Regions from separate parts of the Homo sapiens genome. Here region 2 is linked to region 1. Evidence: fine-mapped expression QTL. A gene starts in region 1. The other region holds a variant in brackets. All regions are shown on one strand. Distances are from middle to middle. Region 1 holds the start of NT5C (5', 3'-nucleotidase, cytosolic). Region 2 overlaps GRB2 (growth factor receptor bound protein 2).

The links.
Region 2: its variant is fine-mapped to the expression of NT5C in whole blood (INTERVAL, PIP above 0.99).

What each region holds. Positions count from the first base shown.
Region 1 is chr17:75,130,341-75,133,246 of GRCh38, forward strand. It overlaps NT5C (5', 3'-nucleotidase, cytosolic), which reads right to left and starts at 1,402. Exons shown (of 5, transcript NM_014595.3): 1 at 1,194-1,402; 2 at 841-941; 3 at 705-765; 4 at 413-527; 5 at 1-302. The coding sequence starts at 1,367. The coding sequence ends at 148. RefSeq lists an enhancer at 295-384 and silencers at 421-625, 995-1,564.
Region 2 is chr17:75,383,379-75,386,284 of GRCh38, forward strand. The region is part of intron 2 of GRB2 (growth factor receptor bound protein 2); the gene reads right to left. Among named protein-coding and RNA genes, the nearest start is that of GRB2, 21 kb to the right of the region's middle. RefSeq lists a silencer at 1,357-1,557. The variant A/AGC (reference allele first, on the strand shown) is at 1,678.

The DNA of each region.
Region 1 (2,906 bases):
CCCGGTAGCACAGCGCTTAACGGTATCTGCCTGCTCCACTCCACGGGGCCAGAGGCACCAGCACGATGCCGCCCCGACTCGGCTCTGCGGTGGCCCCTGTGGGCCTGCCCTTCCTTTAGCTCCAGCTGCTGCCCGCGGCATCCCCGCTCATTCCCGCTGCGCAGCTCCGCGCTTGCTATCTAAGATCTCCCTCCAGTTGTCACTCCAGGAGAGCAGCCGTCTCCTTGTCGGGGGCAGGACCAGGTGCCGATTGTGGCAGCAGGTGAACAAGATGTGCTCCCAGCTTGGGGTCTCCTCCTGGCCTAGGACAGTGAAAGACAGCGCGCTGCCATCTGTCATGGGTATTATTACTCCCTCTCCCTAATCCGGGCAGGCCAGAGGCCTGGAGGCTGCCAAGGATAACGGGTCCAACCTCGAACTGTGTCCTTGTCATCAATGAGCAGGTCCCCCAAGACCACCGTCTTGTCCCTTGTCAGGATAATTCGTTCTACGAACTGGGGCCCCAGGTGCTGCTCCACCCAGCGGTACTGTGTAGAAAACACAGTCTGTGAGTAGGGCCTGATGGAAGCCGGAATTCAGGGATAGGGACTTGGCTCTAAGCCCTTGAGAGCCCCCCACCCCCACCTTCTGGGTTTCTGGTGGTTTCTTTTTAAAATCAGGATTTAGGCAGCTCCACGTGCGGAGTAGGGGCGGGGCAGCCACACCTTCTCACCCACACAGTGGTGGTACTTCAGCAGGGGGCTGGTGCAGATGAAGACCTGCGTGCTGCGGAGAAGGACGCGGTTACCGCCGGGAGCCAGGAGCCCGCCCAGGACTCCGCCCGCCCCCCTCTCTCCTTACTCCGGTAGGTCGTTCATCTCCCGCACAGCGTCCAAGGCTCCCGGGATGGGCTCCAGGTCCAGGAAAAAGCCCGGGGCTTCGTACACACTGGCCACTTTATCCTGAAAGACAAGAGTTCTGGGTCCCGGCTTCCCGTTCCCGCGAGGACCCGCAGGGAGGCTCCTGGGGGCTCCGGGCCCGAGCTCAGAGGGGCGGAGGGGGCGTCGGTCAGGGGCACGCGCCCAAAGGCTCCTCCCCAGGGTGCGCTGCCCGCGGGTTCCAGGGTGAGAGCTCTGCGCCCTTCACAGAGAAGGGGGAGACCCCCGGAACGGAGCGAGCGGGCCCTGCCCGGGTGGGGACCCTGCGCCCCCTACCGCCAGGTCGGGCCGCAGGGCGCGGTACTGCTCGCGGGCCAGGAAGCCGCGGCGTTGCTCCAGCGGCACGTGCGGCTCCTCAGGGAAGCGGCGGCGGAAGCCCCGCAGGAGGCCGGCCTCGAAGTCGGCCAGGACGCCGTCCATGTCCACCAGCACGCGCACGCTCCGCGCCATCGCCGCCGGGCCGGAGCTGCGAGCTCTCGGGGTCTGGGGGGCGCGGGCTCGGCCGGAAGCGGAGGGAGCGCTGCTTCCGGAGTCCGCCGGGCTGATTTGCATAGAGTGTCCGGGCCGCCCCGCCCAGGTCGTAAACCAGTGCCGACGGCCCTGCGGTTGCGCGAGGCCATCCTAGGGTTCGGGTGCAGGGACGGCTTTGGGGGGCACTTTTCTGACCCTGCGCTTCTTCGGGACCCAGCCTTTGTCCCCATCAGCCGCCTCCCACTTTACGGCAGACGTACCCCCGTTCACCCCACGTTACTAGTAGGGGACCGACCTTCCGGGGGCCCAACAAAGGGATGCTCTGAAATACTGGGAAGCATCTAACGAGGAGTCAAGGGTCCTAAACCCGTGGGGCTAGCTCCACATTTTTTTTCTTTTTTTCTTTTTTTTTTTTTTTATTTTGAGACGGAGTCTGGCTCTGTCGCCCAGGCTGCGGCGCAGTGGCGGCGCGATCTCGGCTCACTGCAGCCTCCGCTTCCCGGGTTCAACCGATTCTCTTGCTTCAGCCTCCCGAGTAGCTGGGATTACAGGCACCCGCCACCACGCCTGGCTAATTTTTGTAGTTTTAGTAGAGACGGGGTTTCGCCATGTTGGTCAGGCTGGTTTCAAACTCCTGACCTCAAGTGATCTGCCTGCCTTGGCCTCCCAAAGTGTTGGGATTATAGGCTTGAGCCACCGCACCTGGCCAAAGTCTTATTACCGCAGTACCGTGGTCTCAGTGGATTGCTTTCGTCTGTGCAGTGGAGCAGGAACAATCCCTCGAGGACTACAAAGTGAAATGAATCTGTTAACTGGTTTGTGTAAGTCTAGCTCGTTAAGAGACTAATTCACACTAGAGTTGGCTTGAAACATGGGAGCTTCAAGTGTGGTTTCCCCCGGAAAGATGATTTTGATCAAGCACAGGTAATCAGGACTGTCCTCAGGACTTTATGTGGAACTGACATCGCTTACCTACTCCCGTCTAGAAAATGCTGAACAGGGCCAGGTGCGGTGGCTCACGCCTATAATCCCAGCACTTTGGGAGGCCGTGGCGGGCGGATCATCTGAGGTCGGGAGTTCAAGACCAGCCTGACCAACATGGAGAAATCCTGTCGCTACTAAAAATACAAAATTAGCGTGGTGGCACATGCTTGTAATCCCAGCTACCCGGGAGGCTGAGGCAGGAGAATCTCTTGAATCCAGGAGGCAGAGGTTGCGGTGAGCCGAGATCATGCCATTGCCCTCCAGCCTGGGCAGCAAGAACAAAACTCCTTCTCAAAAAAAAAAAAAAAAAAAAAGAACATGCTGAACTGTGATACATTTTGTTGACTCTTCTTTTTGTGGATGTCATGAAACTTCCTGACTCCACTCAAATCTATTTGCCTACAAACTATAAAGCCAGGCGCCGTGGCTCAGGCTGGTAATCCCAGCACTTTGGGAGGCCCAGGTGGGAGACAGCTTGAGCCCAGGAGTTCAAGACCAGCCTGAGCAACACAGGGAGACCCTGTCTCTACAATA
Region 2 (2,906 bases), 250 kb after region 1:
GGTAACAGCAGATAACCTTTGGCCACTTTTATGCGTAGAGTCATGTGACTCAATAGTTTCCTGAACCCGGGATCTGGACTAATCACCTCTTATCAATGCTGTGTACTGAATAGCATTAATAAAACTAAAAGCTAGCAATTACTGTCTACTTTATGCTAGTTACTGCTTTAAAAACACCAACATAGGCTGGGCGGGTGGCTCACGCCTGTAATCCCAGCATTTTGGGAGGCTGAGGCAGGCGGATCACAAGGTCAGGAGTTCGAGACCAGCCCGGCCAATATGGTGAAAGCCCGTCTCTACTAAAAATACAAAAATTAGCTGGGTGTGGTGGCACGCTCCTGTAGTCCCAGCTACTCAAGAGGCTGAGGCAGAAGATTCGCTTGAACCCAGGAGGCAGAGGTTGCAGTCAGCCAAGACAGCACCACTACACTACACTGCACTACAGCCTGGGTGACAGAGCGAGACTCCTTCCCAAAAAGAAAACAACAACAACAAAAAACACCAACATATTGGCTCTTTTAGTCTTCACTATGACCCCAGGAAGGTAGGAAACTATTGTTCCCATTTTACAGATGTCAGAACCAAAACACAAAGCCATCCCGTAAATTGCCCAAGATCGCAATGCCCGATCTGTCTGTGACAGAGCTAGGATTCCAAGCAGGCAGGTCTCGCCTAGAGCCAGTATTCTTTACAATACTTCAGATGTCTCTCATTCCACATCCAGAAGGAGGTAAAATTAAGGGAGTAGCTGCCAAAAGGACGAAGGTTTTCCTCAAAAAGTCATTTTGGGTCAGTTTTTCAAATGTCTCAAAGTTTTATGATCCTGAGCACAGTCACAGTGAACTTCAGCCTAAGATTTAAAATCAGGTTAAATCTCAACGCTTAAGAAACAAAACCACTCCTCAGCAGAGCACTTCACCTTCCTAGAATATCCTTCAAGGTAAACTAGATGCAGAATGTAAACTGCTTACTATCTGAATGTAACTTTTTTCTTTTAATAAAACTGATAGCTGGGCATGGTGGCTCACCCCTGTAATCCCAGCACTTTGGGAGGCCAAGGCGGGTGGATCGCCTGAGGTCGGGAGTTTGAGACCAGCCTGGCCGACATGGTGAAACCCTGTCTCTACTAAAAATACAAAAAATAAGCCGGGCGTGGTGGCACATGCCTATAATCCCAGCTACTCAAGAGGCTAAGGCAGGAGAATCGCTTGAACCCGGGAGGTGGAGGTTGCAGTGAGGTGAGATCACACCACTGTACTCCAGCCTGGGCAACAGAGACTCTTGTCTCAAAATAACATAACATAACATAAAATAAAATAAATAATAAAACTGATACATATGGTAACTAATTCAAGAGTATGAAGAGTAAAAGTCACCTGAAATTCAGTTACTTGGAGACAACAATTACTCCTTGGGAGACCATTCAGAAAGAGATCTATGTATATGATAAAAAAAGAGGAAAAGACAGCAATTTTTCCTAAATGGCCTCTCTCTCTAGTTTGACCTCATTTGTGTATAGAAAGGCTTTATTTACAGAGGCCGGGCGCGGTAGCTCATGTCGGTAATCCCAGCACTTTGGGAGGCAGGCGGATCGCTTGAGCCCAGGAGTTCGAGACCAGCGTGGGCAACAGTGAGACCTCCTGGCTCTACCAAAAAAAAAAAAAAAAAAAAAAAAAA[A/AGC]AAGCAAACAAACAAACAAACAAAAAAACCCTTAAATTATCCAGGTGTGGTAGTGCACAGCTGTAGTCCCACCTATTCAGGAGGCTGAAGTAGGAGGATTCCTTGAGACTGAGAGGTCAAGGTTGCAATGAGTCAAGATCATGCCACCGCATCCCAGCCTGGGTGACAGAGCAAGACCCTGTTTCAAAAATGAAAATAAGGCTGACCGTGGTGGCTCACTTCTATAATCCCAACACTTTGGGAGGCTGAGGCAGGCATATTACCTGCGTTCAGGATTTTGAGACCAGCCCGGCCAACATGGTGAAACACTGTCTCTACTAAAAATACAAAAATTAGCTGGGCATGGTGGTAGATGCTTGTAATCCCAGCTACTCAGGAGGCTGAGGCAGGAGAATCACTTGAACCACGGAAGTGGAGGTTGCAGTGAGCTGAGATTGTGCCATTGCACTCCAGCCTGAGCAACAAGAGTGAAACTCCATCTCGAAAATAAAAAATAAAAATAAAAAAAGGGAAAAGAACAAAAGAACATAAAATCAGGACTAAACCAGATTGGATCTGAATCCTAACTTGTGAATTTGGGCAAATTAAGCCTCAGATTTTTTGTCAGTAAAATGGGGATAACAGCATCTGCCTTTACAAGATTTGCGTGAGATTAAAAGAGAAGGGAAGTTGAATACTTAGCTTAGAGCAAAGGCATGCTAAGTATTTAATATGTTAGTTATATTATTACTTATTAAAACAGGATCCATTTAAACGTTTCTCTGTGCAAGTGTAGGCATTATTCTGTGTTGATACAGATCAACGTTAACACCTTCATTGCCACTTAATAGGTGCCATAATCTACCTCTGTAAACCCCACTAATTGGTTTTGCTTTTTGGCTTGTATGGCAATTTCATGAACTGGAAGGTGCATGCCACTTTTATGTGTTTTAACATCTCTAAAATGCATCTTACAATTGACAGTATTGGCAGAAAAAAATTTTTCTAGGTGGTATATACATAATTGAAATAAACATCCTTATGTCTACATCTTTAAAAAACTTGTTTATGAGTTTCTTAGAATAAATTCTTTTTTTTTTTGGAGACGGAGTCTCACTCTGTCGCCCAGGCTGGAGTGCAGTGGCATGATCTCGGCTCACTGCAACCTCTGCCTCCCGAGTTCAAGCGATTCTCATGCCTCAGCCTCCTGAGTAGCTGGGACTAGAGGCACACACCACCACGCCCAGCTA